Regions from separate parts of the Homo sapiens genome. Here all the other regions are linked to region 1. Evidence: fine-mapped expression QTL. A gene starts in region 1. Each other region holds a variant in brackets. All regions are shown on one strand. Distances are between the middles of the regions.

Region 1 (5,000 bases):
TTCAAAGGAGTCCTGGGAAGTCACAAAGTGTAAATACTTCTGGTAACAGAACAAATTAATGTCGAAGCACAACCAGTAACATAATAATGCCTCAATGCAACCGTGCCTGTCAAAGGACATCTGTATTAGCAGCTCGGGGAAGTGGCATTTGCAGAAAGGCACAACAACTGCGCTTAAAAGAAAATCATTAAGCCTCAGCCATTAATCCCCTCCCCCATCCTCTTCGTCTGGATCTTTCCAAACAATTAACCAGTAGAAGGTGCTATTCTGCAACCCACATGTATTCACACCAACCTCCATCCTTGGGCCACAGCTGGGTTTATCCCAGGTGGACTAGCCTATTCCCTGTCCAGTATTCAAAGGAGCCCCCTAAACAGAAAACCAGATCTTTTCTTATAACCCTTATTTACAAAAACAACATTGACAGCTCAATTGCCAGCAAACCTGACCATCAAACCATCACACCACTAAAAACATGCAAACATCATCTTGCTAAATATTAACCTCAATACAACCTTTATAATATTAATCAATAAAATCTATTTCTATCTAGAAAGACTCTGCTCACATTCACTACTAAGACTCAAGTGAACAAATCACTGTCCCCAACAAAATCAGGGTCAATGAGAAATACAAAAGCAATGAGAGCTGAACGTAAGGCCACAACATATAAAGAGGGATTTTATCTTTACATATACAAAAAAGAAAGAGCAGCAGAAACCACGGCTGCAAAAGGAATAAAGGGAGGCAGAGAGAAGAGAAGTCTCTGAACATGTTTTTGAGTGTCCTTTAGTTTCCAATGCACTCTTCTGCCTCACAAGGTTGCAAAAACGGCCAGGCATGAGATGGGTGGAAGAAAGCTGTAACAGAAAAGCACCCTCCCTTCCCCCATCTTCTCTCTTCTCTCCCAAAAAGAGCTGTGTTTGTCTGTGCAAACCTAGTCCCAAATATGGGAGAGAGAGAATGAATGTGTGTATGGAAGAACAATGAGCCCTCAGCTTGGTATTGTGTGTGTGTGTATGTGTGTGTGTGTGTGTGTATATGTGTGTCTGTCTGCCTCTGCCTCTTTTCCCTTCGACCTCAACAACAACAGGGAGAGCTGGAAGCCAGCTTTCCACCCATCCCAGGCCATCAAAATCAAAACTGGTTGATAATTTACAGTAGTATTAACTCAGCAAGCAAATCCATGGAACAAAATATCAACCCAAAGATGATTTTATTATTGTACAGATCCAGCTTCTCTCCCCTCCCCCAACAGACTGAGACTAAAAAGACCAGTGTACACTAGACAAAAAGGTCTCTCTTTAAATGGAAAGCAATTATGAAAACTGTTTCAAATCTTAGATGCATCAATTCCTGCTATATTAAAATGTCTATTTTGTAATTCACCAAGTTCACCCTCTTACTAGTTATCTTTTTTTGCGTTTAAAAATTCGCTGTGAAGAAGGCTATTTCACGATTCATACAAAACTACTTTCTAAATGTACCTTAAAAAAGCAACAGATACTGAAACATTTAAAGCACCCAGTTTCTCAAGGACCCATTTTACTTAAATCAATGTTTGAAGTCTGTAATCCAGAAAAATTGTAAGCAAACCTTGGAAAAGAGACAGAGGAAAATGACAATTCAACAATGAATCATTCTGTTTTCCTTTCAACAACTTCTCAAGCAACCAGTTTCAAAGGAAGCCTGCAACACTTTTCCCCCCTCCTAGCAGACACACATACACACGTGTATGTAAAACTACGAATCTTTCCATCATCTTAAAAATTAGTAATAAATAGAAGCCACCCTCCTTCAGAGAGCAGAACTAAAACAGGATAGTAAGAATTCTATTCTGCTGCAAGTGACTTTGGGTTTCATAATTTTCTAATCACATACAGCTGAGAACTAGAGATTGGGAGCACAAAGAGGAAATCTTCCCCCAATGAGAAAATGATACTTTAATAATAAAGTCCTCCCCCCAGCACCCCGAAATCCACAAACATTCAAGAAATTTACAGTTTCAGTCCTTGACTTCCTTCCCTTCCAGTTTCAGCCAATAATGTAGTCACATGAAATAGTTTAACCTCAAACAAGTAGAACAAGAGCATGAATAAGAGGCCAAGAGAGAGCAGGGGTCAGAAGGCACGCAGGAACGGTCACCTGGCCCGGACAGGACCAAAGAAGTGCCCTGCCCTCGCCCGACTCCCCTCGACTTCGGCTTCGACCCCAGCCTTTTCTTCCTGCCTCCCCCCGGGCGAGTGACTGCTTTCACGGCCGACCCTCTCTGACCACCAGGACGAGGGGCCAAAAAAGAAAGCACACGACCCGGCGCGGGCAAGTTGGACACTTACCTTCCCCTAAAGCGCTACACCATCAATAGTGAGGTGTTCGCGGCCCAGCTCCGGGGAAAGTGGCGGGGATGGGGCGGGAGGCCGCGCGGAGGCTGCGGGGCCGCGGGGCGCAGGGCCGAGAGGGGCGGCCCGCGGGGAGGCGACGCGGAGGGGCTGAGGGGGCTTCCCTGCCGTGACCTTTCCTGCGACTTGAACCTAGGCTCCCTCCTCCTCGGTCGGGCAGATCTTTCAGAAGCAGGAGCCCAGGATCATGTCTGGTTTTGTTTTCCGAGGGCGAGGGGGCTCCCTGAGGATGATGGTGATTTTTTTTTTTTTTTAATCCTCAACTAGGAGAGAAAATGAGGCAGAGACAATGTGGGGAGCGAGAGAGGGGAAAAGGACGGGGGAGGAGGCGGGGACCGAGGCCCAGCGGGGCGAGCGTCTCGGGGTGTGCGGGAGGCTGAGGAGGCTCCGGAGCGCGGAGGGTTGCTCGCGAGCGTCTGTGGGAACAGCGGCACCTCCGCGATGGTGGCGGAGCCGCGGCGGAGCTGCTGCACCGACCCGCCGCCCACTCCCCGCTCGGGCCCGGCCCACCTCGCAGTATCGCGCCCCTCCATTGGTACAGCGCGGTGTGACGCGGCCGGGGGCCCGGCCAATGGGAGGCGGAGGAGGCGGGATCTCTTTTTCCTTTTTTTTTTTTTTTTTTTTTTTTTTTTAATCTTTTTAATAAAATGAGCAGAGAAGAAGGCGGAGAGAGGCCGAGCCTTGACAACGCCGCGGCCCGGGGCTCGAGGGCTCGCGCTGCAGGCGGCGGCCAGAGGCGGTGGGCTGGGCTCCCGCCGCGGGCGCGTCTTTGTGAGAGTGCGAGGCCGGCCCTCCTCCGCCGCCCGCCGCGCTCCAGTACCGCCCCCCGCGCCCCCCGGGCTGGGCCGGGCTGGCGGCGCGGGCAGGTCCCGGGTGGGGTGGGGGGAAGTCCGGTTGATCTTGCTGTTACCCGGGTCTTAATTGGCCTTTTCAGTCATTAGGACGCGGATCCATGTTGCTGCGGGCTACAGAGTGGGTGTAAACCATTCTCATATGGACTCTTTCGAAATTCTGATGAGCGGCTTGTAATATTTTTCAAATAGTGTACATGACAAAAGATGAATTACAGAAAGAAAAATAAAAGTGATAAGTCGCACTGCTTATTTGAAAAGAATAAAAAGTGTCATGAAGGCATAAAGGAGAGACTGTACAGGTACAGAAGGGATTTTAGAAAGAGCAGTGTACAACTCTATAAGGTACGTGTGAAAAAAAATCTAAAAAGAGGAAAAGACCAAACATCACCTCTTTTTCTTTGAAGAATGAAGTATTGTGTCCCACTTCCCGAAAGCCTGATAATCACAGGGTCTATCATGCTGTAAAGGGAGTAGGGGCAGGCCAAATGATCATATTCTAGTTCATATAATTTATGGGATTGAGGGGTTTGGAAATTTCAATTATGATTAGCAGTTTTTGAAATGCACATCATGTTTATTGAGTTCTTTCACAGAGCCTGGCACGAATCCAGGGTGAATCATCAACCTATTGTTGGTTTGTTAATATTCTGTAAATGCTTATTGGTGTCCTTATACCATACACTCTTCCCGAAGGAGTTAAGGTCCGTATAAAATAAGGGGTAGAAAACGTAGCACAAAATAATTCACTCATCTGTTTCAAAAGAAGTGATAATTTTCTCCTTGGAAAATCTATTCAGATTATAATTTCCACATTGAATTATTCATTTTTTTTTTTTTTCTGAGAGGGAGTTTCACTCTTGTTGCCCAGGCTGGAGTGCAATGGCGCGATCTCGGCTCACCGCCACCTCCGCCTCCTCAGTTCAAGCGATTCTCCTGCCTCAGCTTCCCGAGTAGCTGAGATTACAGGCATGCGCCACCACACCCAGCTAATTTTGTATTTTTAGTAGAGATGGGGTTTCTCCATGTTGGTCAGGCTGGTCTCGAACTCCTGACCTCAGGTGATCCGCCCGCCTCAGCCTCCCAAAGTGCTGGAATTACAGGCGTGAGCCACCGCACCCGGCCCACATTCAATTATTCTTTAAAGAATAATTTGGACTAACAGATACTATTGGACCATGACCCAAGAGATCTTAAAAAAAAAAAAAAAAGCCATAGATCCTTGCCATCACATTTCTGAGTAACTTTCAGCAAGAAAAATCCTCTTTGCTGGAGTTATGAAATGGGGAAACTAGTTAATATCTCTTTATATATCTGATAATGTGAGAACTGAATTTTAAAACCTAATAAATTCAATAAACTGCTTCCAACATTCTAGATATGGATAGGACTATCTGACTTCCTGTTTGGAAATGATGAGGGATAAAGTATATCAGTTAGATGGCTTCACTTTCCATCAAAATCTCTATCTACAGGAGCATTCTTTCTTTTTTTTCTTTTTTTTTTTTTTGAGACAGAGTCTCGCTCTGTTGCCCAGGCTGGAGTGCAGTGGCACGATCTCAGCTCACTGCAACCTCCACCTCCTCGGTTGAAGCGATTCTCCTGCCTCAGCCTCCTGAGTAGCTGAAATTACAGGTGTGTGCCGCCACACCCAACTAACTTTTGTAATTTTAGTAGAGATGGAGGTTCACTATGTTGCCCAGGCTGGTCTCGAAACTTACAGGAGCATTATTTCTAATAAAGATTCAGC
Region 2 (10,999 bases), 430 kb before region 1:
GCCTTTTTCAACTGGAGTTCTTAAAATGAAGTGACTATTAATATTTTCTCAATTCTCCTATGAACGGAACATAACAGGTACCTTTCTAGATGCACAGGCAAGACGTTACTACGTTACACACAATGGATGCCCGGCTTCTGAGGCTTACCTCTCTCAGAACTCCGAGTGAGAACAGCTGCCACTGGCTGCACGACCTTGAGCAAATTCCCTAACCTCTCTTGGCCTCTGTTTCTTCATTTTAAAAATGGAGAAAAACCACCACAGGAAGGTTAAGGAACCTCCTCGAGACTCTCCTTATCTAGAAACCTGGGCTGCCTCGCCACGAGCTCCCTCCTTTATAGGGTTGTGGTGAGGATGGAAGTGCCAAAAAGGAGCCGGCACACATGCTCAGTAAGTGACAGGATTTTTTCTTGAAAATCCTTTTCCATCTGGGAAAAGGACCAGAAACTCAGAACTAAGTTCACCTTAAAGGACTATTTTAATTGACTAAGTTAAAAAAAAAAAAAAAGTCTTTCAAAGAATGGTTTCTGCAACCAACTTCCTTCCTCTATCATGTTTCCCCTAGAACGACAGTGCCTTATGTAGTCAAAGAATAAGAGAATGTTAGAGATGGTGAATGGTAATGGTGTCTGGGCCTAGTTCACAATCTGAAAGATAAGCGCTGGTCAAGGAGAAGAGTATTCTGTCTGAAGATCTCAGCTGCAACCAGCAGAACCATAAATGCCCAACAGCCCACTGAGGCCACCTAAGAAGCCTGTCTCCACCCAGGTCCAGCTTCTCTCTTACACAATCGGCAACAGAATGACGCCACACAAGATCATTAAACATTTCAGCAGGAATAAAAACGAAACCAAGAGAATGCACCTGCCAATCTATATCAGGCAACTATGGGGTTTGTGAGCCGTCCTTGCACTTTAATGCAGAATTAGCTTTGATGCACAGATTGGAAAGGTCCAGCTTAAGGGACTTAGAACATCCCATTATTTAATTTTATGACACCATCACTCCACTCTTAAATGTGTCGAAGAACATACACTTATGTTACAATTTATGCCCAAGGGCCAGGTGCGGTGGCTCATACCTGTAATCCCAGCACTTTGGGAGGCTGAGGTGGGTGGATCACGAGGTCAGGAGTTTGAGACCAGCCTGACCAACACGGTGAAACTTTATCTCTACTAAAAATACAAAAATTAGCCGGGTGTGGTGGCACGCACCTGTACTCCCAGCTACTTAGGAGGCTGAGGCAGGAGAATCGCTTGAGCCCGGGAGGTGAAGGTTGCAGTGAGCTGAGATTGCGCCACTGCACTCCAGCCTGGGTGACAAAGTGAGACTCTGTCTCAAAAAATAAATAAAATAAAATAAAATAAAATAAAATAAAAATGTATGCCAAACTACAATGAATTCTATTGCCGAATTTTAAAAATATTCACTTATGATAATGTGGGGCTCACTAGAGTGTCACAAACTCCAGAATGAAAATTAGTGGCTTAGATTACAAACTCTCGTAGTAGAAAGGTCTAAAGACTCTTTAGAATTAAGCTTGAAAGAATCTGTGTTTCTGATGCTGAGAAGAGCATAGGGAACAGGTTGTACAATCAACCGCCTCACCCCAAAGCCTCCTTGGGTCCACTGCTTCCTCAGGTCGGGGTCTTACTGTTTATTCCACATCGTGGCTGTCCCTCTACCCCTCTAGGCTGTGTGACTGGGAACATGTAAGCTGGGATGCACGGAGGTCCAGTCTCTCCCTGAGTCATGCGCATCCTGTTCCTGCTGCCCTAGTTTTTTCTTGTGGGATACAATGTCAGTTCTGTAATCTGTCCCCTCTGTAGGGGTAAAGAGATGTGCTGACGTGCTCAGAAAAGGAACATGCTTCTCTGGATGCCATGAGGTACTAAAACACCTGTATCTTAAAGGGGCATTAATAAGAAGAGCAGGGATCCTCTCCTGGGAACTCAAGCAATCATTTAAACAGTGCTCTCATACAGCAGCAAATAAAGAGGTAAATGAGATCTGCTTAAGGTAACAGCAAAGGTGAGCGGTTGTATGCTAACTCCAGATAGGAGTGATGAATATCTGAACTGATGAATATCACTTAAAAAGTCTTGTCACATATGATCTGGATCAGAAGGCTGTGACATCACAACCAGATGCTTTGAAGGCATTTTCTCTGCTCCCTCTAGTTACAGACAATTAACAGTTCTGTACACTCTTACTCATCTGTTCCAGAAGGCTACTAATAAAGAGGTTGGGCTACTTGTTTTTCACTCCCAGCTAAACTTTCTGTCTCCTGCTGTGGGCAGGAATGGCAGTGGCATGTGACCAGCGTTCCTGAGTGGCAGAGGGCAACAGCTGGCCATCAACATGCCAGTCATGGGCACAGCTCTCAGCCGATGCAACAACCACATTGACTTCAAGGACAATCTAAAATTGAACTCAAGGCAGCACCTAACAAGTCTCTCGTGCTTGCACCTTCCTTCTGGGCCCATCTAAAAGCAGCTCTGCAGGGCGATTTCTGCCAGCCACAGGTCCTGTGTCCTCCATCTTCCTTCCTTGGAATTCCTAGCAAGACTGAGTCAAGCATGGCCTTGGGTCTATGCTGTTCTTTATGGGAAGCACCGAGGAAAATACATCTCTTGAATTATTCTAATTGTATCTTAGAATTTAACATGTTCACTGTCTAAAATCAAAATGAGTTTCACATATAAATGGGCAATTGAATTAATAATATCAACACCCATCACAGTGTAACAAATAACTTGATTATTAACTTCTACTGACAGCCCCATGCTTCCTTCCTCAAGAGTTTCAGACTGCCCGTTTGTGCTTTGTGCAGCTAGAGGGTTCCGAACTCTCAAGAGGCCTCAGGGAAAGTTGACTCTGTGCCTTAAGCAGAAATCACAACTGATCCAAGGGAGACCCTGGATGCAACTGCAAAAAACTGAATGGTAGCAGGGGCAGGCTACCACGGAGTTTTAAATCCTGCCTTACATTAACACAAAGGAAATACAGGAATTACCCAGATGCCAAAAGGACCCTGAAGAGTATCAGATAATGATGTACTTCCAGCTCCTGGTGACCAAACAAAACAATGTAACAAAACACAACCAACTGTGGCCTCAGAACGCCTGACCAGCTACCCGGAGAGCTTTTATTTCTTGAAGGGAAGCCTTCTACCAAACAAACAAACAAACAAACAAGAAAACACCACTTTGGCGGATGGATCACTAGGTCAGGAGATCGAGACTATCCTGGCTAACATGGTGAAACCCCATCTCTACTAAAAATACAAAAAAAAAAAAATTAGCTGGACGTGGTGGCGGGCGCCTGTAGTCCCAGCCACTCGGGAGACTGAGGCAGGAGAATGGCGTGAACCCGGGAGGTGGAGCTTGCAGTGAGTGGAGATCGCACCACTGCACTCCACCCTGGGTGACACAGCAAGACTCCGTCTTAAAAAAAAAAAAAAAAAAAAAAAAAATATATATATATATATATATATATATATATTTTTTTTTTTTTTTTTTTTTTTTTTCTTGGTTCACAGCAGTCAAAAGAACCACAAAGGAGCAGTAGTTTCTAAGCTTCCATGTAGGTGAAGACAAAAATTTTTATAAATTTCATGAATACTTATATCCCAACTGTTCAAAATATCAAGATATTTAAGAAAACTTGTAGGACTACAGTTAACTATTCTCTCCTCCAAATTTTTCTTTAGAATCAGAGAGACCAAAAATAAAAAAATTAAAAAATTACCATTGCTCCTATATAAATCATAAGAATAAAATAGAGCCAAGAGAACTTCTTAGGAACCCCTCTCATCCCAAGCCAAGAGATTCTTCCCACATTGGGCATTATCAATAATGAGAACATTCCTGAGATCCTATGAGCTTGTGTGGCCCTGTCTCATAAAGACAGTAAAGCCACACAAATAAGGGTTTCCACTCCCTGGGCCTGAGCTCTGAAACCCAGCCAAGACAGAATCCCAAACAGCCAGAGAGCTTCCTTTCTGAAGGCAGTGAACTGAACATACATTATTTAAGATGAATATCTAGAACTCTTACAAATGAAAAAGAAAAGGACAATCCATTGAAAAATAAGCAAAAGACTTACACAGGCCCTTCATGAAAAAGAAACACAAACAGCCAATAAACTCATTATAGGATGCCCAATATGATTAGTAACCAGGGAAATACAAACTCCTCAAATGCCCAAATTCTTTGTGTTGGATTTTCAAGTAAAGTTTACCTCAAAGAGTTAACACAGAAGACAAAGGTTTTGAAATCTACTATATATTCTCTCAGGGGAAAAGCTGCAACTTTGGGTGCAGAAGTAGTGTGAGGAAAGGAAAGAGGATAAAAATATGACTTGAAAGGACTTCACAAATAGAAAAAAGACGGATAAAGGGAACGTACTCAAATGGATTCAACACTATCTCATTCAAAATCCCAGCTGGTTAGTTTGTGGAACAAGACAAGCTGATTTTAAAAATTTTAAAGAAGAATAAAGTGCCACTAATCAAGACACTCTTGAAAAACAAGAAAAAGGTAGGGGACCTGCTAAGTCAACTATCAACAATTATCCTAAAGCTAGACAGTGAAGCACTGGAATAGACAGAGAGACCAACAGAACAAAACAGCTTAGAAACAGATTCACACTCTTATGGAAATTTCACTTTGACATAGCTGGCAACACAAATCAGTGGAGAAAAGGCTGGACTTCTCCAGAGATGACACTGGGACACCTGGTGATGTATTACAGAAACAAGTAAATCTGGTCTCTTTCTTTATGCTACACAATCACCAAACCCACGGACTAAGAACTTAAATACGAAAAGCAAAATTATAAAACTTTTAGAAAACAGTAAGTATAGGAGACTGCCTAAATGACCAAGAGAGATTTCTAACAAATAAAAGCTCAAAGTATAAAGGCTGATACATTTAAGGAGAGAGGATAAAATCGTTAAAATTAACAACATATTAATCTTTAACCAATCATAAAAAGTGTGAAAAGATAAGCCACAAGCCAGAAGGTATTTGCAACACACATTATTTAAGATGAGTATCTAGAACTCTTACAAATCTAGAAAAAGACAATCAAATTGAAAAGTAAGCAAAAGATTTATATAGGCCCTTCATAAAGAGGAAACACAAATAGCCAATAAACTCATTAAAGGATGCTCAATATGACTGGAAACCAGGGAAATACAAATTAAAATCACTCAGACATTTCAAGTTTATAATGTTGGTAAGCATTTTAAGGTCTGATTCTATCAAGTGTTGGCTAGGATGTGAAGTTACTGGAATTCTTACATACAGCTGGAAAAACAACAATCTGCTTTTCTTGGTAAAATAGCAGATACGCATACCTGTAACTCAAAAATTGTCTTAACTATACCCTAAAGAATTCGTGTGCATGTGTGCCAGTTGATGTGTGCAAGAAAGTTTACAGCAGAACTGTATGCAACAGCAAAACACTGGAACCAACTGAAATGTCCATCAACAGCAGAAAAGAGAAGGAAAAGACGCTCTATTCATACAAGGCTGTGAAGTACCACAGGATGCAGAGCTGCCTCTCGGGATAAAGGGGAATGAAAACAGCAAGGTGCAGGACATTTTTCCTCCATGACTCCATTCATAGGAAGTTCAAAGACATGCAAAACTAATATACTGTGTAGCAATACACATATATGAGGCAAGCCATAAGGAAAAGGAGGGGGGTTATAGCAGAATACCCAGTCTAGTGGTTATCTTTGCGTGGAAAGGACAGGGGATTGCACCGGAGAGGAAACAGTCTGTGCAATCTTTTTTTTTTTTTGAGACGGAGTCTC[A/G]CTCTGTCGCCCAGGCTGGACTGCGGACTGCAGTGGCGCAATCTCGGCTCACTGCAAGCTCCGCTTCCCGGGTTCACGCCATTCTCCTGCCTCAGCCTCCTGAGTAGCTGGGACTACAGGCGCCCGCCACCGCGCCCGGCTAATTTTTTGTATTTTTAGTAGAGACGGGGTTTCACCTTGTTAGCCAGGATGGTCTCGATCTCCTGACCTCATGATCCGCCCGCCTTGGCCTCCCAAAGTGCTGGGATTACAGGCGTGAGCCACCGCGCCCGGCCCAGTCTGTGCAATCTTAAGCTGCGTGGTGGCGACAGTTCACCGTGTGGCTGTTTTTATACCATACACAAATGCTATATTCTTTTGTAACTCTTCAATATTTAACTAAAAAAAATTTAAACCAGAAGATTGTCAAATATATTCCAATTCTGCATTTAAAGAAAGGTTTCTCTTCTCTACAGATAATTTGGAAATGATATGCAAGTGCTTCCTTGCTCATTAGACAGCTAGGTAAGGGGTTTAATGACTTCTCTTCCACCTGACCTCACTTTTCCCACTGCCACCTGCCCGCCCACTCTAAAGGTGCTGTCCGAGCTCCACAGCACACCCACTGCAGGGATACTCCCACTTGGGAGCACACTTCTGTGTCCCTGCTCTTCAAACCCAAATGACCTCCCTTCTCTTTCTTAGGATCACTGTTTTCCTGAGTATTGTATTATCTTTAGGAAAGTACAGTGCTTATGAAATGACACTTCTTAGAAAGACATGTGTCAGCTGGGAAGGGTGACATGAAATCTTCAAAATTATCAAAATCAGTCTAAAATAAGCAGAGCTGTGCTTCTAGATAAGGCCGAAAATGACTACTCCATAGGTGTCAACAGTCTCCAAATATAATCTACAGCACAAGTAGCCTCAGGGGTATGAAGAATATGTCTGTGAACTCATGTCAACCCACTCTCATGTCTGTGTAAAACCTGAAAAACTAAATACATACACGGGAGGTACTAAAACCTTCATCCCCAGCATCCACTGGCGTGTGACGTCAACGCCTTGTTCTTTATTCACGGCCATTTCAGAAACCTCTGTGCCACCCCGTCCATTTACTTCTAGATTTCTGCTGCTGTGCGGCTCAGTGGATGCCCCTACTTTAGGGAATCCCAGCAGGCGCACCCTAGCACGAAAAGCCAAGGTCACTGTGCCTCTTGTTTACAACAACACAAAAAAGGTCTTAGGCAAGACCCCCCTACCGCCACACATGCTAACAAAAAACCATGAGGAAGGGGTGGAATTCTCTTTGGTAACCCATGCTTTGCAGTCAATTTGAGGTTCATGTTGGGAGGAGAAGTCGGGGAGCCACCACGGAAGGTCGCATGGAGGGAACCTCACCACTTCCCTCTATAAATGAAGCCCCAACTGTAGTATGCGAATAAAACAATCCGTCAGCTAAGTGCACGTTGTTTTGTATACATTAATAGTTTTCCATTTGTGAGGAGAAATCAGGGCAGCAATGACGACCCTGTCTCTTAAACGCATCCACTTCTGCAAACAGTTCATCACCTCCAACCACCAATGGCCAAAGAGTATCTCCCCTAGGATCCTGTTCAATCTCTCTGTGGACCTGTCAAGACACAAAGCCAAACTAGACTGAATTTCTCTGGCAGGAGTGAAAATACATCACGGGTTAAGAACAAGAGTAGTTAGACAGTGAGGATGTTAACATAAGGAGGTGGGCATGTACCAGAAAAAGGAAAACCAATACCAGACACCTAAAATCCAAGACCTAGAAACAGTCATCCTGTGACCTGAAGCAGAGCCATGTGCCACAACCAACCACGCCACATCTGAACCCAGAGGCATCCTGTGACACATCTGACAAGAACGACGGCATACAGAAGAGCAGAGACCCCACTCCAGACAGCTACACTCATGTACAGAGAGGCCTTTGGCACATCTTCTGGCCAGTCGTCACCCCACCCCAGGTAGGGAAGCTGCTTATTTGGAGAGTGGAAAAAACAAACCTGGCATGCATGGTTCAGCGCCCTGGTAGTTTTGGGAGCTAGCTGCTCTTTTTGATCCTCTTCTCCAGGGTAGGCTCTTCCCCTGCCCACTAATCTATGTCCCATAGTCCGAACTGTATCAATAACTATAGGTAATATTTTGAACCCATCTCTCTTTCTTCAGAACTTGGGGAAGGAAGAAGGGGCACTAATTTATCAGCCTCATTCAGAGACCCAAACAAATAGTGAAGACAGAGCCCCAGAAACCTAAGTCCAAAATTCTCCCAACTAATTCCTTTCTATCTAGTAAATATTTTAAAACTATTTTTAAAAAATCATATTTATCCAGTTAAAAACTATGTACATTTTGAATCCATTCTTCCATAAAACAAACATACATCTCAAAACCAGCTATACAAGAGGGAACTCCTGATCTTCACTTCTCCCTCCTAAACTTACCTCCCCATCTTAACAAGCAGCACTTCCCCTACCCAGTGGCTCTGTGCCAGCGGGGGGTCCTCCCTGACGCTGTCCTCTCTGATTTGCCACTTCTGATTCAACACCAAATCTCACCAATCCTGCCTTCCAAAATATTATCTCAAAAAAACAAAACAAAACAAAAAAAACTTTACTTCTCTCTGCCTCAACTGCCACCACCCTCATCCAATCTCGGGGTCACCTTCCATGATCACACTGACTCCTACCTGGCGCTCAGTTTCCACTCCCCTTGACCTACTACAACCCAAATTCCACACTGTGTCTTAAAAATAACAAAATAAACAGGAAAACTGATGTTACTTCCCTGTTTGAGATTCCTTATCAACTTGTCACATTCTCAGCACAAAACTCTAGCAAGGTGTTCAACAGCATGGACTTTAAAGCCAGACTGCCTGAGAGTAAATCCCAGCTATGGTATTTCCAAGTTGTACATACTTGGGTAAGTTACACAGCCTCCTATCTATGTGGTCAATGAACCGATGTATGTAAAGCACTGAGAACAGTGCCTGGCACCTGAGAGGCCCTCAGGACATCCTATTACTGCCATGGAGCACACAAGGTCCCCATGACCTGACCTCTCCCCATCACTGTTACTTCACCCCTCTCCATTCTCCTTTTTGCTCCACACACTCCAGCTACACTTACTTTTTCAGCTTCCCCTGAGTTCCAAGCCTATCCTTCTCCAGGGCCTCTGTACAGGCTGATCCCTTGGCCTGGGGGGCTCTTCTGATTCTATCCTTCCCTCCTCATCTCTGGGGTCATAACTGAAATATCTTCAGATATTCCTTTCTTAAGTTAGGTCCCCCTGTTATGATTTCTCATAATACTCAGCAGATTTCCATTATTGCACTTATGAGAATTTATAATTATATATCTAATTATTCACCTAATCTGTCTTCTTCATAGAATTAAAATTCTAGAGGCCGGGCATGGTGGCTCACGCCTGTAATTCCAGCACTTTGGAAGGCCGAGACAGGTGGATCGCCTGAGGTCAGGAGTCCTACACCAGCCTGGCCAACCCTGTCTCTACTAAATAATATAAAAATTGGCTGGGCATGGTAGCAGGTGCCTGTGATACCAGCTACTCGGGAGGATGAGGCATGAGAATCGTTTGAACTTGGGAGGCAGAGGCTGCAGTGAGCCAAGATCGCGCTATTGCACTCCAGCCTGGACAGCAGAGTGAGACTCTGCCTCAGAAAAAATAAATAAATAAAATTCTAGAAACCAGGGAACATGTCTTTTGTTTATTGCTGCATTTCTCACAACTCACACAATGTTCAGCATTCTACAGATCTTCAGTAAATATCTGTAAGATGAATGAGTATAAAGAAATCTAATAACAACTTGACTTACCTTGTAAAGAAATAACCTAAAAAGCCATGTACATGCTCAAGAGGTTTCAGGTTAATGACTCATTCTTGAGACCAAAAAATGTCACAGAGGGCATTTGTAAGAAATAGAAATAAACAAAATACACAATTGAAAAAATAAAAAAAGGTGAATCTAACAAAATCCTTTTTTAAAAAAATCCTTTTATGCTTATATTTTTACCTAACCTGGAAAATGAATATCTCTATCTATATATCTCTCTGTCTATCCATCTATCTATCTAGATAAAAACAAACTTAGCCAAAACTTTTTCCTCTCCCCTGGGTCTCATTCTTCATTCCTAGCTTTCTAAAAATTCAGCAAAGACAAAACATTTGCCTTTTCCTATCAACCATAAACACCCACTTTGAACACAGCCAGTATCTACCCCCACCCCTCCATCTAGGAGCTTTAATTATGGCCCTGAAGTACGCATAACTCACACTAGCAGTAGAGTCCATCTATGAGGGACGTGGAGGCCCTCAAGAGATATGGTCAGCATCTGTTACGCCAGCACACCAGAGCAAACATCTGCTGCAAGGTTGTGCTGAAAACATTTCTATCAAGTGGGCCATCCTGTCTGGAAGATTACCAGCCCTGGAGGGATGTTTGCGAGCAAAGTTTCAGCTCTTCGTGAAGCAGCCCTCTGACCAAAGCAAGCGATACAGAGTGCTGCAGAGAACACGATGTGCATTCTCTGGGGGCATTTTCAAGGGTTTCCATTTCATAGAAAATGAAAGGATTCTAAACCATGTAGAGACGGTGGAAAATATAGTTGGATACTACCCAATGAAGATGTGCACCAAAATACCATGATGAAGTTTATCCTGAAAGTAGGAGAAGGAGAATGTGGTGGGCTTACTCATGAGAAGGAATAGCAAGGTGCTCAGATTGGACTTCTGCAGGGATTCGTCCCCAAGTTCCCAAAGACTCAACCTACCAAGAAGGAGGCTACTTTGCCAGAAACTGTCCTACACTTTATAGTACTTGATCTTACCTTTCCAGATGTTTCTGTGAATTTTTTAGTCTAGTGCACCATCAGTTCACCAACTGCTCTAGGAAGATCCAAATACAACAGTTCTTATTTCCGCCTCCATCAAGGGTAATAAATGCCAAGTAAGATGCAGTATCCTATTTAGCGTGGCCTGTGTGACTGGGGGCCCAAAGCCAGGAACCATAGCATCCACATCATCTGGGCCTTTCTGATTGGACCGTAGCATGACAAAGAGCAGTGGCTTAGGGGACCCTCCTTTCTCTTGCTGACTCAATCTAAACTGCTCTGGGTGAGCACTCCCCCTTTCCAAGTCCTGTTTAATTC
Region 3 (10,999 bases), 380 kb before region 1:
TGCGTGTGAGCTGCTAAGTACTTCTGTGTATTAACTCATGCCATTAAAGTCCGTAGATGCCATAGGGTGACCCAGAGCCACACTGGGTAGGCCCCTCCAGGCATTCCTTTGTCTTCCAAATACCAACTGAGGTGCAGGCTTATTACCCTTACGTTACTACTGGCACAAGTAAAACTTCTTCCTGCATATACCTTAAGACGGGGGTCTCCAGTCCCCAGGGTACAAACCACTACCAGCCTGTTAGGAACTGGGCCACAAAGCAGGAAGTGAGCGGCAGGCAAGTGAGCAAAGCTTCATCTGTATTTACAGATGCTCCCCCTGGCTTGCATTACCGCCTGAGCTCTACCTCCTGTCACATCAGCAGCGGCATTAGATTTTCATAGGACCACGAATCCTATTGTGAACTGCGCATGTGAGGGATCTGGGTTGCGTGCTTCTTTTGAGAATCTAATGTCTGATGATCTGTCACTGTTTTCCATCACCCTCAGGTGGGACTGTCCAGTTGCAGGAAAACAAGCTCAGGGCTCCTACTGATTCTACATTATAGGGAGTTGTATAATTAATTCATTACATATTACAATGTAATAATAATAGAAATAAAGTGCACAATAAATGTAATGCGCTTGAATCATCCTGAAACCATCCTTCCCCTCAGCCCATGGAAAAGCTGTCTTCCACAAAGCTGGTCCCTGGTTCCAAAAAGGTTGGGGACCTCTGCTGTATACCACTGTAGTCTTATAAACACTGTTTACTTAATTAACCTAAACATTTAAAATGTTTCCTTTCTTCAATAATAAATTAACCTTAGCTTACTGTAACTTTTTTCACTTTATAAAGTTTAAAATTAACCTCATGGGCCTAGCACCTCAAATCTCCCCCGCTTCTCTCTCCCCAAGCCAGCTTGCCCTCTCTTAGCTCCCTGTGGCCCTATTTCTGTCAGCTGCAGCAGAGTTCTAGAAGAAGTGCCTGGCGTGCTCTCTGTCCATTCCCACTCCTTCCATCAGTCACCATGCCCTCTAGATTCATTCTTCACTTCATGGAGTTTCCTGTTCGGCATGCTCCTCGGTTTTTGCAAGGGCTCTGCCAACTACAGGGCCACGTCATGCCAGTGACTGCACTGGTCTCCTCCCTGGCCTCAGTGTGTCTCCACACCCCTCCCCCCAACATTCCAGTTCTGGGCATTCTGTATATTAATGTGTTCTCTTATTTGAAGACCTGTGACAATTCCTAGTACGTCCAAACTATCGGTCTGCTAGTTAGTTAACAGCCTCCACAATTGGGTTCCCAATCACCTACACCACCATGTAGTGAAGTTAGTTACTGCAGTACCCCATCCTGATTCCTTTCCCTGGGTTTTTACCAATGCCTTTCTCTCTTACCCAATCTAGAATGTCCCCTCTTCACTTCTGCTTATTCAAACACATCAACTCAACTAACATTCATTGAGCCCTCATTCTAGTGAACACACTGTGCAAAGAGCACAGCACGAGGCACTGAGTGAACAAGGAGCACAGCACGAGGCACTGAGTGAACAAGGAGCACAGCACGAGGCACTGTGCGAAGCATGTTCCAGTTTCAACTCTATCCCTACACAGAGTCCGCTCTGCTCTCTCTCCCTTCTCTGAAAAACAACAATTCCTGTTTATGACTAGAATTAATAAGCACTTCTGCCATTAAAAGGTCTATAGATCTTCCACCAAATTGTGGATTCCTTTCCAGCAAGAGGTGAGTATTTCATGTCTTGTGTAATCTTCAGAGTGCCTGGCAAACTGTAACCAAGCAATATGATAACTGTTGGGTGGCTGCATGGGTATTGTTTTTGGTCCTAGAGTTCTCCCTGAAACATAATACATGTTTGGTAGGATGGAAACAAAATTTCTAATCAATGTTAGATTTGTTTCTTTTTTTCCAAGAAGAATGGAGAAGTAAATCATATTTTAAAATGGGATTGATTACTTGGACTCTCAGTGCAGAAAACACTGTTTTATATCTATTCATCTCAGAGGAATAAAGGGTGTGATACTTCTTAAGGTACTTCTTAAGATACTTTAAAGGAAAGTTTACATATATATACACATATACATATACATATACCCAAACTTAAACTCTTGAAATAAAAGCACATGTCGGAGATTATATGCTGTATGCTGGATATCCATGAGGAAAATTTTCCCACAAACAACCTGGCATGGTTCAGTAACTAAATAACTACATCCCCCGTACTGGTAACTAGCCCTATCTCAGGACTACTGTGTTCCTGGGTGCAAGATGGGTGTCTAGGCCTCCACCATCTTCAAAGCCTCAATTTCTATGTCCCTGGTTCTCTTAACAATGGAACAGTCGTAAAGCAGGGTAGCCTCTTGGTCCTACAAAGAGACAAGAGGAGGACTCAACTATTTCCAAAAAGACATCTTGTCTTGCATGCTATGTTTTGTCAACTGTCTTAAATACCTTTAATATCTAATAACACCACTTCCACTTGGTTCTCCCTCTCTGGACATGTGTCTTTGAAATAAATCCTAGTTTCAGCACACACAAAAAAGACCTGTTTCCCAGGCTAGTCCCAGAAGATTCTATGGTAATTACAACAGGATCCCAAATCCAAGCCCTCTGAGTAACAGTCCATTCATTTCTTTTTTTTTTTTTTTTTTGAGACGGAGTCTCGCTCTGTCGCCCAGGTCGGACTGCGGACTGCAGTGGCGCAATCTCGGCTCACTGCAAGCTCCGCTTCCCGGGTTCACGCCATTCTCCTGCCTCAGCCTCCCGAGTAGCTGGGACTACAGGCGCCCGCCACCGCGCCCGGCTAATTTTTTGTATTTTTAGTAGAGACGGGGTTTCACCTTGTTAGCCAGGATGGTCTCGATCTCCTGACCTCATGATCCACCCGCCTCGGCCTCCCAAAGTGCTGGGATTACAGGCGTGAGCCACCGCGCCCGGCCCCATTCATTTCTAAAAGAAGTCCTCTCTAGGGTCAAATATGGCAGCTGTTTAGCTGACACAGAGGAGTAATACCAAAGAGTTCTCTTTTCTGTTTCCTTTCTTTTCCTCTTTTTCCTAATCTTCCAAAGGCCAAAGAGAATGAGAAGGAGCACTTGGGAAGGTAGATCTAATATAATCCTGCCTGGCTGTTCTACCCTCCTCAGTTCATGAGTATCATGATAATGGACAGCTCCTGGTTTAAATCATTGTTTTATTCCATCACCCCACCACTAGCAACCCCCAGTTAAGATTAGCTATAGAAACATAACACAAAGGGTGACTGAAGCGCCAGGTCTTTCAGTGTGTGAGGCCAGCAAGAGTCCAACAGCCCCTCAATGTCCCAGCTGACTCTTCTGATGATATGCTCAGAAATGTCTACAGAAGCTGAGCAGCTGCCAGCTCAACACACCCTGCCACACCTGCGCTATCGGTGGAATCAGAGAATGAGAAAGCTAGAAAGAAGCTTTAGAGAACTACGCTGGTTGAAACCCTCATATTACTGATGAGGACCATAAATCATTTAACTGAAATTAAACCAACAAATCAAACCACACATACCCACAAAATCTTTACATTTGTGACAAACTATATTTTCTAGAGGTGGCCACTCCAATACAGATTCCATCCCACATGCTCTAACAATGTGATAATGACACTCCTTCATTGACAGGTGGGTCTCTCTGTTCTCTCCTCCTGAGCCTGGGTAGACCTTTGTAACTGTCTTGACCAACAGAATGTGACAGAATGATACCAGGTGACTTCTAAGACTACATCATACAAAGCAACACAGCTTCTGCTGGGCTCTCCCTCTCTGGACACGTGTCTTTGAAGCCCTGAGCTGCCAGATTAAACAGTCCGGCTTGCCTAAAGTCACCACGCTGGAGAGACCATCAGGGATGGAGAGGTGCTACAGAAACCCTAGCTATTCTAGTCCCCAGCCATTTGAGTCTTCCTAGCCCAGACTCATAAGTGAAGAAACCTTCAAGATGATTCCAATACCTCCTATCACTTGACTGCAACCTCGTGAAAGCCTAAGCCAGACCTGCACGGTGGAGCCATTCCTAAATTCTGGTCCCACAGAAACTGTGAAAGATAATAAATGATCATCATTGCTTTACATTGGGCTAATTTTTATTATCAGGGGTAACGTGTTACATAGCGATAGGCAACTAATACAAGATTCATTACTAAAACCACTAAAAACTTTAACCTGTTAGTCACTATTAATTTAAGCAAACAAATAAGCAATCTTCCAATGATGCTTCCCCAATTTGCATGCCTCTCTATAACCTTACTCTGCCTTCATTTTAAGGCCTAGCTCTTATCACCATATGTGATATGATTAGATAACACGATATAGGCTACGTTACTGAATATATGAGGAAAGGGCCTTTGTTTTGTTCACTATTATATCCCCAGCACCTAGAACAGCACTTGACAACATATAGCAGGTGCTTGACAACCACTGGTTCAGTACAAGAATGTATCTGGAGATGATTGGGCTTAGTGTTCCTCCAAGGCTATTTGACCTCTCATCACCTGTTCTCCAGTTTGACTCAACGTCTCTTAATATATATTCACTGCACTGTTAAGTTTCTAACTCTCTAACTACTACTGACAAAACCATTAGATGTTCTTCGTTCAAACCCACTAGAGGAACTACACCATCCCCTCCGTGATGCCAGCTCAGCATCCAGAGTAGAGCCAGTGATTTCCTTTGTCAACACACCTGCATGCCAAAAACCCTTCCCAGGAGGTCTCAAATATCAAATAAAAGTTACTCCATTTTTCATTCAAAGACCATGTGCCCAATGGGAAAATGACCTCATGTTGTGGTTTAAACAGCAACTGCACCCACTAGCACAGCCCATTGAGCTATCCTATATATACATCTCTGTCAGTGCCCCTCTGGGTCTAGATAATTACACTGAGTACACTGAAGTCCTTTCATTATTGCAGGCCCAACAAAAAGTACTGCCACTGGGTGAATATCAGAAAGCATGCATCAATGCACTTTCAAGTCAAATGAGAACTGGCTAGTTAAGCAGCAGCATTAACAGATGTAGAGATTGTGCCAGCCAAATGCCTCTTGCCAATTATGGCCACACAGCTACGCCCAAATTAAAAATAACCCAACACGGCCAGGTGCACTGGCTCATGCCTGTAATCCCAGCACTTTGGGAGGCTGAGGCAGGCAGATCACGAGGTCAGGAGTTTGAGACCAGCCTGGTCAACATGGTGAAACCCCAACTCTACTAAAAATACAAAAATTAGCCAGGCGTGGTGGCGTGTGCCTGTGATCTCAGCTCCTTGGGAGGCTGAGGCAGGAGAATTGCTTGAACCCGGGAGACAGAGGTTGCAATGAGCTGAGATTGTGCCACTGCACTCCAACCTGGGCGACAGAGCGAGACTCAATCTCAAATAAATAAATAAAAAATAAATAAAATAACCCAACACTCATAACAGAATCCAAATGGGCATGGGAGGCTCCTTCTCTCCCTACAATATCACCCTACAGTCGCTACATAAATGCCCCTGTAAAGTGGCTCCTAAGTTATGTCATTAAAATGTTCACCTTTCCTTGGCAAAGTAGATCTCAACACAGGAGGAAAGAGAAATAAGCTAAAAAAAGAAATGTGGATTGTCTAGAAGTTACAAGGGAACAAAAAAGTAGAAATCCTCCGTGAGAGGATTTTGCAAAAACTGTAATTAAAGGAATCTAGACCAGTGGTTGCCCGATAGAAATATAAGCCAAAAATGTAAGTTTTACTCTTCTAGTAACCATACTTTAAAAAGAAACAGGTAAAATTAATTTAAATGTTTTATTTAACTAAAAAGATCAAAAATATTATCATTTCAACATGTAATCAATATAAAAGTTAGTAATGAAATATTTTACATTCTTTTTCTTCCTGCTCAGTCTTTGAAATCAGTGTGTATTTTACACTGACCGTGCATCTACACTTGGGCCAGCACATTGCAGATGCTCAACAGCCACAAGAGACCAGTGGTTACCACATTGGAAAGCACAGGTCTAGAATAATCCTAACTTCTTTTTTTGTAAAATACTGAAACATCCAAAGCACTCCAAGTTTTCTATTAGGGAGGCAAAATAACTATACTGTTAGAATCATGGGCAACGATATCATAAATTCCTAAAATAAAACCACATAGGGCCGTTATTTCAAATTACATAAAACTTGTCTTCTAGAAGAATTCGACCAAATGCCAAAGTTCTTAAGATCTGCCCCACTTCCCAAACAAGGGAAACTGAAGACCTCGACCAGCACCAGGGCCTTCCGTCAGCTCCTGATACAGGAGGGGCTCCTGGATTTTGTTTCCCCTTC[T/A]TGACAATACAACATGGGACTGGGTTCCTCATTTGACTCGGTTCATTTAAAGAATGATCTCAAAGAAGAAAGGAAAATCAATGACCCCTTTAGGAAATGTAGTCCAGGGTGGGGGTGGAGGAAGCATTTCAATGACAAAAGCCAAACCTCAGTCATAATGCAGATCCCTGTCTAACAGGTGATCATTGTTTTTTTTTTCTATTACAGGCACTCTGGTCTCCCGCCTACCCCATGCAGGATGGCTATCCCCATGCAGAATGGCTGTGACTTTCAAGAGAGTCCCCCAAGGGAGGGTCCCAAGATCAGGGGCTGGTAATGGGCCCCACCACAAGGCTACGCTGCTGGCTTTTGTTTGGAACAATAGCGCTCCCATGATACCTCACTCTTGCTGACAATATTGGTAATACGGGAGCATGAACACAGCTGTGTGTAAATTACACACACAAACAGATTAGATCTGTATATTTATAAGGAATACAAACATACTAATAGCTCATTTACATACACAGCTGGATACAATGGGCTGCATGCAGAGGGGAGTTTGAGTTCCAAAGTATTTCTCTAAAATTTTACAAAAAGAAATGCTCAGATTACTGCTAACCCAGGCTGAGACTTCTGCTCCCCCCACCCCCATGCAGTATGTCCCCCGAAATAGAGTCCTTTTCATCCTCGTTTGTGATATTTGAGATGCTATGAAGGAGAAACCTCAACAAGTGCTGTTAGATTTCACTTTTATTATTATTTATTATTATTTTTAGAGACAGGGTCTTGCTCTGCCACCTAGGCTACAGTGGTATGATCACAGTTCACTGTAACGTGGAGCTTCCGGGCTCAAATGATCCTCCTGGCTCGGCCTCCCAAGTAGGTCAGACTACAGGTATGTGTCAGTTACCATGCCCAGCTAATTTTAAAAATATTTTTTTGTAGAGACGGGGTTCTCACTATGTTGCCCAGGCTTGGTCTTGAACTCTTGATTTCAAGCAATCCTGCTGCCTCAGCCTCCCAAAGAGTTGGGATTATGGCATGAGCCACTGTGCCCAGCCAGATCTCACTCCTGTAGGAAAAAAATCAATATAGGATAATTTTCAGTTAAAAAGATGTATATACATACGAAGAGGGAGACCTACTAAAACATCTGTTACAACAGCATATAGTAAGGCAGAATCTTTGCATTTTCAAAATGTTTTCATAAACTTTATTTGTTAGAGCAATTTCAGGTTCACAGCAAAACGGAACAGAAGGTATAGGGATTTCCCATATAGATGGGTCTCTGGATTTTTCAGCTAATTTTGAAAAATAGGGAAAAGAGCAATCAGCATTTTGTGCTCACTACAGTAAACCAGGAACACAGGCATCAGGAGAGCTGGGCTCTGATTCAAAGGCCTGATTCTAGCAAGGCCTCACAGTTTACTTCCGGCTAGCCATGAACACTCTCTGCGCCTGAGGTTTTCGTGGAAAGACAGCATCACAAGTACTCAAATGTAGCGTTTAAAAGTACTAACTTTTAAAATGTTGAATGTTCCAGTAAAACAGTTAAAGAAAAAAAAAGGTAATAATCCAACTAAGTAAAAATATTAACTTATACATATCTGGATAGATGATAAGCTCATTACAGGCCCTAATTTTATTATTTAAAATGTTTACAACAAAACTCTCTAATTGATATTCTCCCTCTCTCTCTCTTTTTGCCTTGATATGGTTTCTATAAACTCTTGGTTTAAAAAAGAAAAAAGGTCCATTTCTGAGGCTTGGGTTTACTGTACTTACAGTTCCACCAGTAAATCGTCTCCCAGTCTGGGCTGGAGAAGCGCTGGCCACGGTTTGATTGCTCCAGCCCCAGGTTGCCAGGCAACCCACACAAGGGGGAAGTCTGAGAACCGCTGACAGATAGCCAAGTGGCTGAAACAACAGACTTCTCTCTGTCAAAAATGTGTTTGAGAGAGCCACTTGCCCACCTCTGCTCTCTGCTAAACACTACATGATTGTAAAATCAAAATCAAAAGGCCACTGTAATAAAAACACACTTCCTGCTCAATTACTAATTGTTCTAAAGCTGTGGGGAGGCCCAGATCCTACAGTGTATGGCAACAGAAATGCGATACTGTAAATGAGATAAAGCCAGCAGCATGCAAGAAACCTGATCTAAATGCATCTCCGTAGCTTCAAGTCAGGAGAGCTGGTGTGTGGAGGAATCAACTGCCTAAGAAAACACCAGGAAGAAAATAATGAATGTCAAGATGTTAAAGAAACAAACCAATCAATAACTACGAAGCTAGAGGTCAAGACTACTTAGTAATAAAACCAAGAACATTCTCCATTGTTTTGAAACACAATCTGGAGGCAATGAAAGTTTTCTCCCTCAGATGGAAAGGAGGAGCAAGAAAGGTCAATGACCCTTGGGAACCACACCCCCTGGCGGTTCCAGGTGGATTCCCTGATACTTGACTGTAAATGGGATTACAGGAAATAGTAGCATCCTTAGGATAATGCAGGACAATAACAGGTCTGAGAGTCTAATGCAACATTTAAAATACCTATGGTGTGAGCTGGGCACAGTGGCTCACGCCTGTAATCCCAGCACTTTGGGAGGCCGAGGTGGGTGGATCACCTGAGGTCAAAAGTTTGAGACCAGCCTGGCCAACACAGTGAAACCCCGTCTACACTAAAAATACAAAAAATTAGCTGGGCATGGTGGCAAACGCCTGTAATCCCAGCTACTGGGGAGGCTGAGGCAGGAGAATTGCTTCAACCCGGGAGGCAGAGGTTGCAGTGAGCTGAGATCGCGCCATTACACTCCAGCCTGGGCAACAAGAGTGAAACTCCCTCTCAAACAAACAAAAACAAAATATCTATGGTGCATGTACCAAGCCAGTAACATTGTGCCCAACACCAACTCTATGCAGCATCCTTCCATGAAACCACTGTATTGAAACTGTCATCTTGGACTCTGGAAACTATTTGTAGTATGTGGAAGGGGCCAGCACTGAGTGCACAGTTCTTTATCTCTTCTGTGCCATGGACCCTTTGGCAGTCTGGTAAAGCCTGACTCCTTCTAAAAATGGTTTATGGCCAGGCACGGCTCATGCCTGTAATCCTAGCACTTTGGGAGGCCGAGGCAGGCGGACATGAGGTTAGGAGATCGAGACCATCCTGGCCAATATGGTGAAACCCTGTCTCTACTAAAAATACAAACAATTAGCTGGGCGTGGTGGCGCATGCCTGTAATCCCAGCTACTCAGGAGGCTGAGGCAGGAGAATCACTTGAACCAGGGAGTCAGAGGTCGCAGTAAGCCGAGATCATGCCACTGAACTCCAGCCTGGCGACAGAGCGAGACTCCACCTAAAAAAAAAAAAAAAAAGGCTGGGCACGGTGGCTCCTGTCTGTAATCCCAGCACTTTGGGAGGCCGAGGCTGGCGGATCACCTAACGTCGAGTTTGAGACTAGCCTGGCCAACATGGTGAAACCTCGTCTCTACTAAAAATACAAAAAAAAAAAAAAATTAGCTGGGCATGGTGGTACATGCCTGTAGTCCCACCTACTTGGGGAGGCTGAGGCAGGAGAATCGCTTGAACCCAGGAGGCGGAAGTTGCAGTGAACCAAGACCATGCCACTGCACTCCAGCCTCGGTGACAGAGGGAGACTCCATCTCAAAAAAAAAAAATAGAAAGTATGCCAGAGTAATATAACTGCTCTATGAACACACTAAATAACAAGAGCTAGCAGAGGGTTTTCTTTAGCTCATGCAGGTTTTTTGTTTTTCGGGGGGGTGGGGGGGCTGTTTTGCTTTATTATGTGACCTCAGATGATAAACCCTTGGAGGGCAAGGACAGCAAGTTTTTCATCATTCAATTTCCAGTGCAATATGCAGCCCGGTTTCCTGCCCCAAGCTCCTAAGCTAGCCCTCGTCACACCACTAGCCCAGCTCCTATGGGGGCGTGGGTTTCCTTGACTCTCCCAGTGCCCAGAAGTGGGCCTGGCATATAAGATGTGTAAGACCATAGTCCGCAAAATGGGATGTATGGACACAAAAGACATTTTTTTCCTATGTTCTCTTTCCAACAATCCATCAGCCTGAGAAGGCACACGCTCCTGTGAGGGGATGCAGCCTCTCTTCTTCTATCCCCACCACTGCCCCCCTCTCACTTCACAAAGGCAGCCTCCTCTCCCCCGCTCCCATCTGGAAGGCTACCAGGCAGCACTGCCCCAGGGGCACTGAACAAGGGGACAATTTAAAACATTGACACTGGTGCTGACACAGTGCCTAGCTCTGAGGTCAGGATGAGAAAGACTCCACAAGTCAGACATTTTCTGATTCTCTGCTTTCAACAAAACACAAGGAGGTCCTAGTGGAAGTGTCATCTGATAGATTGCGGAAAGTCATATCTGACGACAAATTATACTTTTGGCATTATTATGGAAAGAATTCAAATAACTGAGTGACACTGTAACAAAACTATCATTCCCATCTACTTACTCACATAAACAAGGTTTCTGGGCACTTACGTGTTTAAAAAAACCATACAATTTATTTCCAATAAATGTTAAGCAAAAATGAAAATTATATCAACATTTACATTATTTCGTTGTTTTCATCAACTGTGCTCTAATAATTATAATTTGAAAAAACATTTCTTCTATACTTAAGAGCTTTATTATTAAAGGAAATAACCAT

Direction of the effects. Alleles are on the strand shown, and positions count from the first base shown. SD is a standard deviation of normalised expression in the study named. Not every link is listed here.
For the expression in visceral fat of the gene that starts at base 2,817 in region 1, allele G in region 2 goes with a lower level than allele A (small effect, 0.29 SD a copy in GTEx).

What was found. PIP is the estimated chance that this variant, and not a neighbour inherited with it, causes the effect. A credible set is the group of variants that fine-mapping cannot tell apart.
Region 2: its variant is the best candidate, but not a certain one, in a credible set for the expression of RERE in visceral fat (GTEx, PIP 0.67).
Region 3: its variant is the best candidate, but not a certain one, in a credible set for the expression of RERE in T cells (TOPMed, PIP 0.81).

The regions. Positions count from the first base shown.
Region 1 is chr1:8,814,824-8,819,823 of GRCh38, forward strand. It overlaps RERE (arginine-glutamic acid dipeptide repeats), which reads right to left and starts at 2,817. Exons shown (of 23, transcript NM_001042681.2): 1 at 2,337-2,817. RefSeq lists silencers at 2,415-2,474, 2,725-3,024, 3,125-3,354 and an enhancer at 2,767-3,061.
Region 2 is chr1:8,382,520-8,393,518 of GRCh38, forward strand. The region is part of intron 12 of RERE (arginine-glutamic acid dipeptide repeats); the gene reads right to left. Among named protein-coding and RNA genes, the nearest start is that of RERE-AS1, 37 kb to the right of the region's middle. The variant A/G (reference allele first, on the strand shown) is at 5,825.
Region 3 is chr1:8,430,921-8,441,919 of GRCh38, forward strand. The region is part of intron 11 of RERE (arginine-glutamic acid dipeptide repeats); the gene reads right to left. RERE-AS1 (RERE antisense RNA 1) reads left to right here. Exons shown (of 4, transcript NR_125999.1): 4 at 3,713-4,096. Among named protein-coding and RNA genes, the nearest start is that of RERE-AS1, 12 kb to the left of the region's middle. The variant T/A (reference allele first, on the strand shown) is at 6,327.